2 separate regions of the Homo sapiens genome follow, and region 2 is linked to region 1. The links come from fine-mapping of genetic effects on gene expression. A gene starts in region 1. The other region holds a variant in brackets. All regions are shown on one strand. Distances are between the middles of the regions. Region 1 holds the start of USP1 (ubiquitin specific peptidase 1). Region 2 overlaps DOCK7 (dedicator of cytokinesis 7).

Evidence for each region. PIP is the estimated chance that this variant, and not a neighbour inherited with it, causes the effect. A credible set is the group of variants that fine-mapping cannot tell apart.
Region 2: its variant is the best candidate, but not a certain one, in a credible set for the expression of USP1 in tibial artery (GTEx, PIP 0.80).

The regions. Positions count from the first base shown.
Region 1 is chr1:62,434,751-62,439,750 of GRCh38, forward strand. It overlaps USP1 (ubiquitin specific peptidase 1), which reads left to right and starts at 2,299. Exons shown (of 9, transcript NM_003368.5): 1 at 2,299-2,650. RefSeq lists enhancers at 766-1,533, 1,216-1,565, 1,534-2,301, 2,126-2,195 and a silencer at 2,896-2,955.
Region 2 is chr1:62,491,105-62,496,104 of GRCh38, forward strand. DOCK7 (dedicator of cytokinesis 7) reads right to left here. Exons shown (of 50, transcript NM_001367561.1): 39 at 4,477-4,577; 40 at 3,171-3,363; 41 at 1,600-1,743. Among named protein-coding and RNA genes, the nearest start is that of USP1, 57 kb to the left of the region's middle. The variant T/C (reference allele first, on the strand shown) is at 1,883.

The DNA of each region.
Region 1 (5,000 bases):
GGGATCCTCCTCCCTCATCCTCCCGAGTGGCTGGGACTACAGGCACGTGCCACCACGCACGGCCAATTTTTGGAGTTTTTTGTAGCGATGGGTCTTGCCATGTTGCCCAGGCTGATCTTGAACTCCTGGGTTCAAGCGGTCCACCGGCCCTGGCTACCCGACCTGTTTTTTCTTACATTATCATACAGCCAATCCATCAGTAGAGCTCGTTGGCTGTGCTCAAAATATATCTTGAACCCTACCAGTTTTCAACATCCCACCATCTTATTCCAGACTACCATAATTTATTCCTTGGCTTATTGAACCAGCATCTTGGCTGACCTTTCCGCTGGTACTTTTCTTTTTTTGAGACAGAGTTTTGCTCTGGTTGCCCAGGCTGGAGTGCAGTGAGGCGATCTCGGCTCACCGCAACCTCCGCCTCCTGGGTTCAAGCGATTCTCCTGCCTCAGCCTCCGGAGTAGCTGGGATTACAGGCCTGCGCCACCACGCCCGGCTAATTTTGTATTTTTAGTAGGGACGGGGTTTCTCCATGTTGGTCAGGCTGGTCTCGAATTCCCGACCTCAAGAGATCAGCCCGCCTTGGCCTCCCAACGTGCTGGGATTACAAGCGTGAGCCACCACGCCCGACCCTGCTTGTACTCTTGAAGGTCAACGTGTAATCCCGCCACTCCCCAGCTCAGAATCATCTAACGACTCCCATCTCCTTACTCGGCTTACCCAGGGTCCTGCCTTTCTCACTCATCTCATCTCCTCCCATCTTATTTCCCAAATTGACTGCGCTCTAAGCGCCCTGGCCTCCTTGCTTCTTTTCAAAACACCAACCACATTAAGCTTCAGGACGTTTGTAACTTGCTGTTCTCTCTGCCCGCACCATTCTTCCCTCAGATTCCTCCAAGCTTTTTCATTCAGCTCTGCTCAAATGTCAACTCAAAGAGGTCTTTCCAGGCTATCGTATCTATCACTTATCTTAGCGTCACTTGTATCTCCCTCTCCAGAATGTAATGCTCCTTTATGACAGGGAATGCCTTTACATCCCTCGCGCCTTGAAAAATGCCTGGCACATAGTAGGCACCTTAAAAATACTTGATTAAATGGATTTGGGCTGAACGTATCCTGCTTAACTGCAGCACTTGAGCTGAGGTCACCTCACCAAAGCAGGCACACAAACACAAAAGGAAGCACACAACCAGATGAGGCCTGCCTGCCGCTCCTGAACCCTTTGGGAGGGCTCGCGCGGGAACCCTGGGAAGCTCCCGCGGCCGGAGCTGGGCCTGAAACTGTTCTTTCGTTTCCTCCTGCGGCCGAGAAAGGGAAGAGGTAAACAGGCGAAAATGAGGCGAGCAGGGGCTGAGGACCGGGCCTCAGCTCTACAGCATTCGCCTGAGCATGTATTGTTATCCGTGGCAGCGCCTTGTCTCATTGGATGGCCCTAGGCCTAGTGTGGCCGCGACTCCGAACTGAAAGCCCAAGCGCGGCGGCGTCCAGCCGGGCAGCCATTTTCCGAAGCTGCTCTCTTGGTAACCCCGCCCGGGCGCGTACGCACGAACGGAGGCGGGGCTTACCGCGAGGGCCTCGCTCCGGAAGCCGCACCCTCCGCGGCGTCCCACCGTCGAGGATTAACAAAACGCCAAACAAGATTTTAACAGTCGGCAGCGAAAGCGCGCACTCGAGCGCCAATGAGAGCGGAAGGAGGGGCACCGCGCCTGAGGAACACTCCGTATGTCGAACAATGATTGGCTGGAGCCCACCTTTCTTCTTTTTTGCTATTAGATGGGCTTGCTGCTCCCGCCCATCTAATTGGCTTTGGTCTAGGTACTTCTGATTGGCTTCCCCCGGGCGGTGGGAGGCGCGGTTTTGGGGATTGTTCATCATGGATTGGTGAATTTGGGCTCCTTCTCGAGGTGGTGGCCCATCCCGTCTGCTCTCTGTCCCGTCTCCCGACCCGTACGCTTTTCCCTCAACTCGCGCGCACGAATGGTTAAAAAAAGGGTGTGAGGCTCGAGCCCGCCAGCCAGGCCGCTAGCACCTCGCGCGCGCCCTCAGCGAGGACCCGCACGAGCTGCCCGGCTCTGTGCCTGCGTTGTTTGAAACTGTGGAACCCGTTAGGCTTTTGGGGAACTACAGTCCCAGCTGGCTCCGGAGCCCGTGCGTGCCAGGGGCGAGTGGCCGTCGCGAGACGGCTCCTGCCTTTCGTGTCTCTGCAGCGTGGAGACTGGAACCGGCAATTTCAAAGGACGCCACGTTCAATCGCAGCGCTGGCGCGGGCGGAGGCTAAAACACGGGGGTCCTGAGACTGAGGAAAACGCGCCAAGTTCCCCTCGGTGGCGGAGTGCTAAAGACCCTAGCGGTTCAGGCGTTCGGCGAGCGGGGCCGCTGCTTGTTGCGCTCCTGGCTCTCCCGGGGCGGGCGCAGATGGGCGCCGCTCCCGGGATGTAGTTGGTGTTGGTGCAAGACGGGAGCGAGCGGCGGTCGGGGTTCCCGCTCTTGGGAGCGGATGGTCACTCCCCCGCGGGGAGGGCGAGCCGACCAGATTTTCCTGGGGCCGGGGACCCGGCGGGCTCGGGGCAGGGACTCACCTGTCGCACCCACACTCATTCGGGTTGGACTTGCCGGCGTCACCGCCGCGGACTTCGCTTTGGGCCATGACCAGGTAAGGAGGGCCTGGGAGGAGGGGCCGGCTCCCGGGCGCGGGGGCAAGTTCGGCCGGCGCGGGAGAGGAGCTGCCGGGGAGACCCCGGGACCGTGTTGGCCTCGCACCCTGGTCGACCTGCCAGGGGGAGCCGTGTGTGCCTCGGGCGTGGCGCCTGTCTTGCCGCCGCCGGGACGCGAGAAGGCAGGTGCGGGCTGGGCGTAAATAGGCCAACTCCGCGGCGAGGGCGCCCGGCGCGGGGGTGTGGGCCGAGGACGCCGCCGCCAGCCTCCCCCGACCGGGCAGCCTGGTCGCTGCTCGTCCTTCCAGCTTTCTTTCCGTTCCCGAGAGCGGTGAAGGATGGGGAGAAAGAAACGTTTCCACGCAGGTTGCCCTGTGTCGGTAATTGCGAAATTTTACCGCGCATTTTCTTTCACTTACACTTTTTCAAGAAGTGTTTAGAACGCCGCGTGTCTTAAACCTTGGCGAAGATGTCCTTGTAGATTTTTGTTGAAAAATCGGAATCGAGTCGTGTCATCTTATAAAGAATTTAAAACTATTGGGACTGAGTGTTCACGCTGTCAACAGATAATGGTCGATTCGTCGTGCTTTCTGCGAAAGTTGATTTAGTTACAGGAGAAATATTTTGGATGTAACAGCCCCCCAGTTACAAGGAAAGCCAGGAGCAAGAAATAGCAAGGAAGATACTGCACCTGGCAAAATGTTACATTCTCGGTGTGAGCTTTGCTTTGAGGGGCTAGGAGGTTTGGTTTTTTGATTAAGCTGACGATCCGCTATTTCACCTGCCTAATCATTCTTCCCTTCTGTGTAGTCTGGTTACTCTGTCGGTTTGAGATCCAGTTTCTGTCATCCATTAAATTGGCTCTCGAGAAAAACCTTTTATCAGAATCATTAATGCTTGGCGATCCCTGAGAACTTAGCGCAGGTTGGTTTATCATTCAGAAGACAGCGCTTCCTCAGAAGCATTAGGTAGACAGGAGAGTAAGTGAAGTTGGAGACAGAATGGAGAGATGGATCAGCTTTCCAGTGCTTCCTGATTTGGGTCTCAGAAATGGTTTCAGTGTGCTGAGTTCAGTATGAATTCCTAGATCAGTGTCAGCCATGTGAAATGCTTATTAAGGATGAAATTTGAGTGAGTCTTGTGTAGTTCATTTTATTACTCTGCATTTTAAATTTGAAACTCGTTGCTGAAGTTTTGGGCTTTAAGTAATTTTATGGTAATACTCTAGTCAGATAATTTTTCCTCCCATGTCCTGAAAAATAGGCCTGATGTAGAAAATATTAACTCCTACACTCCTACAAATGTTGCCATTTTTTTTCACGTGCAAGTTTTACTTTAAAACAGGGTGGGAAAGTTGCAAATGGCAAACCAAATCATCTTTTTTTCCTACTCAAAGCACTATTTTTAAAATCCAAAGTTTTTTAAAAAGTTTGGAAAACGAGTATTGTGGTTTCTAGTGCATTAAGAATTGGATTTACACAAAGTGCATCGAACAGTTTTTTTTATCACGGTCTCAACTTTGCTTGTGTTTTATCTTTCACTTACGGTTTTAGGTATAACTTAACACCATCTCTATGCCTTGAATGCAAATTATTCTTTAATAAGCTTTTTAGGTACTTTATTTTCATATATCCATGTTAATAACTAGAAAAGGCATTGGAAGAGAGGACTCATCGTCCAGCACTACTTTGATTTTCCATTCATCCTTTCCTACCTTGTACTTGAGAATTAGAGGTGGTAGTGCTCAGTCAATATTTTCTGAATGAATCATTATAATGAAATATTAAGTTGTTTTTTTTTTGAGACTAAGTCTTGCTCTATGGCCCAGGCTGGAGTGCAATGGCACGATCTCGGCTCACTGCAGCCTCCGCCTCCCGGATTCAAGGGATTCTCCTGTCTCAGCCTCCTGAGTAGCTGGGATTACAGGCGCCCGCCAGCACGCCCGGCTAATTTTTGTATTTTTAGTAGAGATGGGGTTTCACCATGTTGGTCAGGCTGGTCTCGAACTCCTGACCTCGTGATCCACTCGCTTCGGCCTCCCAAAGTGCTGGGATTACAGGCGTGAGCTATCGCTTCCGGCCCTTGAAATAATAAGTTTTTACTACTTATACTATTTTACTGTAGGTCTACTAAATAGGATATTTTGTAATGCGACCCTTAATCCATAGCAGGCTGATTTTAAAAATTCAGTAGCTTCTGTTTTTTGTTCTTTAAGAACAGTGTGGTATGCTTCTTCATTTAAGCAATAAATATTGAGTGCTTATTGGCAGGCATTAGGTTTTCAAATGTTAATTTCTAATTTGTACCATTCCCTTGGTAAATTTGTTTTCAAAATTGATGATTTTGTTG
Region 2 (5,000 bases), 56 kb after region 1:
GTGAGGCACCAACAGGTTAAATAATTTGTGCCTGAAGTAAGACAACTACTAAATGGCAGAGCCAGGATTTGAACTTTGGCAGTATGCCTTCTAAATCTACCCTTTATCAATATATTGCAGGATAGGGATAAGGCCTGGTGAAGAACGAATCAATTCCCAACAGCAGTAGAAATGGGGAAAGAGGGCAGCATTGCATATTACCTCAAGCTTCTCTCTTACCCTAACATGAACCTCAGCGTGTCCTAAACCTCGGTGCTGGTACACTAAACATTTAGCAGAAAAGTCAGAGGAAGTAACTGATCCTATCAACATGGTTTAAGAAGGTAAGCATGAATTCAGCTAACTATCTTTTCTTTCTCCAATAAACATCCCATCTGGGTTTCATCTGACTGCTTTAATTCTTCACATACGGATGGAAGGGAACAAGATTGGGGTTATAGCATGACAGCATAGTCAGGTAAAGGATTCAGGATGCAGTTCATAAAACTAAAGAGTAAGGCCCAGGCCTCCAATAACTACCTAATGAGGATTACTATGCAACCAATGGAATGAGTGGTCATAACTTTCTTGGACACCAGGGCAATGCCCATCATACTGGAAAAAAGATTCTCCATTTCATCCAATAGACAAGATCTATTTATAGAGCCCTGTCAGTCTACCAACTAGGAACTTATATCACTCAGAGACTTTCTGTTTTGTTTTGCTACGTTTTTTAACTTAAAGGTTTTAGAAAATGTTTGGCAGTAACAGTTTTATTAACCAAAAAAAATCTGCTACAAATCACATGCTGGTTAATAAACAAGCAAACGAAAAACACTGGTGGGTCTGGGCACAGTAGCTCATGCCTGTAATTCTAACACTTTGGGTGGCTGATGAGGGGAATATAACTTGAGGTCAGGAGTTTGAGACTATCTTGGGCAACAAAGTGAAACCCCATCCCTACAAAAAATACAACAATTAGCCAGGTGTGATGGTGTGCCCCTGTGCCCCTGTATTCCCAGCTACCCAGGAGGCTGAGGTGGGAAGATATCTTGAGCCCAGGAGTTTGAGGCCGCAGTGAGCCAAACCACTGGAACACTGGGGGAAGTGACAGATTATTAAGATGAAAAGGAGTAAGCCAATAATGAATCTAGAAAGAAAATCTTTTCCTAGATAGTTTTTAGGGGACTTGAAATAAAAAACAATTTTTTTTTCTTTTTTTGGAGACAGGGTTTTACTCTGTTGTCCAGGCTGGAGTGCAGCAGCATAATCATGGCTCACTGCAGCCTCAACCTCTTGGGCTCAAGCAATCCTCCCACCTCAGCCTCTCAAGTAGCTGGGACCACAGGCATGAGCCACCATGCCTGGTGAATTTTTAATTTTTTGTAGAGACGGTATCTCACTATGTTCCCCATGCTGGTCTTGAACTCCTGGATTCAAGCAATCCTCCCGTCTTAGCCTCTCAAAGTGCTGAGATTACAGGCATGAGCCACCATACTGGGTCCAGAATAAATTATCTTTAAAGAAAAGTAGGGTCATAAGCCAGAGAGAATAAATACACATGTCATTGATAATTAGAGGTATGAAACTGTGGGAAAAGAATTAACAAGAGTCATCTACCATAGAGAAGGAAGCAGCTGCTTGTTCCAGTAATCCCACAAGTCCTGACTCAGTAAAGTATTTTCCAGAGCAGATACCTTCTTCATCTGGAGATACCACATCATCTGAGACCGCAGATTCTTCTAAAACATTAGATGAAATATTCTAGGGAAAAAATATATTGAAAAGGTTTTTGAAACAGAATTTTCTAGCATAAAAATGTATAAGAAGAAATAACTGAAGATGAACTGTAACTATCAGGTTAGGTTAAAAAAAGGAGAGTGATATAAAGGTAAAAGATAAA[T/C]CTCTAAAAACTTTCTGTATTTTGAAGATGATAATAAAATGAAAACACCATTGCTAGATAACTTTTCTCTTAATAAAAAGTTGTATGAAAGAAAATTAAGAAAAATCATGGGCTAAAGGAAATTGTAATATAACATAAGACATCTAAGGAGACATCAATAGTCTTTCTTATTTATTTAATTGATCTTTTCAAAACTCTCTGTAAAGGAAAAAGGGTACAAAAATGGTCTCTTGACTTATCTAATGTACACGGAGTTAATGAAAAAAGTCAGGTATAATAAAAGCCCTCTTATTCAATGAGATTGGAATCAGCCATTATTTCTAAAAAAGAAATGATACATACATACCCTATTTTATTTTAACCTAAACATTTACAGTAGATGTACACTCATTCATCAACTTTTGAAGTAGATCTAAGGCCTTTTCTTTGTGTGTATGGGTTTCCAGATCAGATTTCCACGGAATCTCTTTTGGGTAAATACCGATAAGGCAACACTCTTTTTAAAGATTTCAAGTTTTGGTTTCTTTTGAGTGAAAACTTAAAAGATTATCAAATTATTCTAGAATTTTAGGAGTTTCCCCTCCCCCAATCTATTTGTCTGGCCCACAGTTAATTCAACAGCAATTGTTTTGGAGATTCACCTTTCCTGAGTCTTTGTAAAACATTCAACTTTGTTTTCCGAGAAACGATAACTTTCTTTTTGCATTCTGATTTCATCAGAAGATATAACATTTAACTAAATTTTATAATATCTCAAACCTACTATTAACAGGTTTTGAAGAAAAGCAAAGCATAACTGACTCTTGGTAAGCAGAGAATTCAACTAGTGGGTCAGAATTATGTACCCTACTAGAGGGCAAACTCATCTGTGAGTCATGGTATTAGTCATAAAATAATCTAATATTTTATGTAGGGAATAGAGAATGTTGGTATATCTGCTATGTGAAGTAAAAGCCAATTAAGAATTTCTACTGAATTCTGATTATCAGTAATACATTTCCATAGATGTTAAAGTATGTAACGGATTACAAGGCAGTAAAGACAAAGAGAATAAATAAGCATAGTGCTGATAATTCAGAGGTAAGAAACTGTGGAAAGAGAATCAACAAGAAGTACTCCTTAAAAATGTATTAATGACAATCACTGTGAAATGTTAATTCACCTTGTGAAGCATTGGCTTAAGTCTTTAAGCTTTCCTTATAAACTAAAAAAATCTAAACACCAGTGAGAAAAGCTAAAACCAAAAAAAGATATACCTTGATTTAATGTACATCTGGAAGATTCCTACCTGAAATGTTACACATCCCACAGGAAGATATTTCCGGTCCTCCAGCATGCTCAAATATTCAGCAACAAGTGCTGCTGAGTGGACTAGACACTGTGCAGCTTCAGCATGATTGCTTCGTTCTGAGTGCTTGCCTGCCATGTTCTGCAACCAGGTCAATCGCAGATCTGGAGAGGTCTGGTAACCCTTGGCAATTCTAATTAGAACAGAAATTCTTCTCCATTAGTATGTGCTTCCCAAGCTGGGAGGGAGTTTAGATAGCTCGCTCAGAGTTTACCTAGAAAGGTTTTTGATACTGTGCACAACCTACTTAGTTTTAAAGTAGTATGAAAATGTCGCTATGCAGGCCTAGAGAAATAACTGTGGCCTATGGAATGGATAATATCAGTTGGTGGGGGGGGCAGGAGGGGCAAAAAAGAAATACGCCATATTAAATTCTGACTTTTAAGAAAATAACCAGTTAAGGGAAAAAGTATGGAAATTTATGTGTTCATTACAGAAACATAGAGAAGTTTTATACACAAGGGAAAAAGAAAACTTCTAAAAGGTACTTTTATTACTTTATTTCAAAGAGATTAAATTGTTTTATTTGTGCTTTTAATGAACCCCAAAACTGCAGGAACAGAGGGTCATATGACAGAGAAAAATTCTTAAGTTTTACTATTGTATCTATTAAGGTGTTAATACAATACGATTTATGGAGTTTTCAAAATGTGCCCTTAGAAATATCATTCTTCAGTCATAACTGTATTGAAAATCAGGTAATTAATGTTATCGTAAAACATTCATATACTGTATTTTCTTCTGAAAAGACTGAGTTTTACACTGAAAATATTGGTATGGGCCTTCAAAGGAACTCTGGGGCCCAGGACACCAAGGTGTTAAATGTGTGTTATGAATACTTAAAAAAATCCTCGTTTTTGATAATCAATAAGTACATTTGCATTGTTCTTAAAAGAAGAGACACAGAAGATCCAAAGATGCCACCTGGAAAAAGTGCATTTGGACTTTCAATCTACCATTAGAAAAATCACTCAAGGCCAGGTGCGGTGGCTCACGTCTGTAATCCCAGAACTTTGGGAGGCCAAGACAGGCAGATCTCTTGAGCCCAGGAGTTCAAGACCAGCCTGGGCAATATGGTAAAACCCCATCTCTACAAAAAAGTAAAAAATAAAAATAAAAACAATAAAGAATGTAAATAAAGAAAAATCACAAATCATTTTTGTGTGTTTATTTTTTTCATCTAATGCTTACTGTATGTCTTACTAAGTCCCTTATACAAAGCATAAATGAATCAAATAAATGCTACCTGTACATTAGATCAATCAACATTTCAGGATCCTCCTGGTGTTCCTTCATTTTCACAGTATCAGAAAGAATCATATGGAGATTGAAAACCAGATCCTGGACCTGCAGCAGAGAATTATATGAAAAACATTCTTGAATTGTCATTCATCCATAATCACCAAATTAGTTTCAGAGATATTTCAGATAAATATCTAAAGATTTCAAAACAAGTTGTAGGATACTGATATGATTCTGTACAGTATAGGTATGTGGGGATATGGTAAGTGAAGGGTAGTAAACTTTATATAAATTCCTCAGCAGACTATGTTTATTTTTGTTCTTTCACCTGGAAACAAGCAGAACTGTAAGTAGAAATAAAACAGAGGGATATGGGAAATACAAGAATACAAAAGGAAAATTCTCTCCTATATTTCTGATTTTACTAAAAGGTAGTTTGTAGAAACTTTAGTTTTTAAGGCATATTATTGTTTGATTAATAAGTAGGAACGTTTCATCATAAAGCTTTGTCTGCACTGTCCAAGTCTG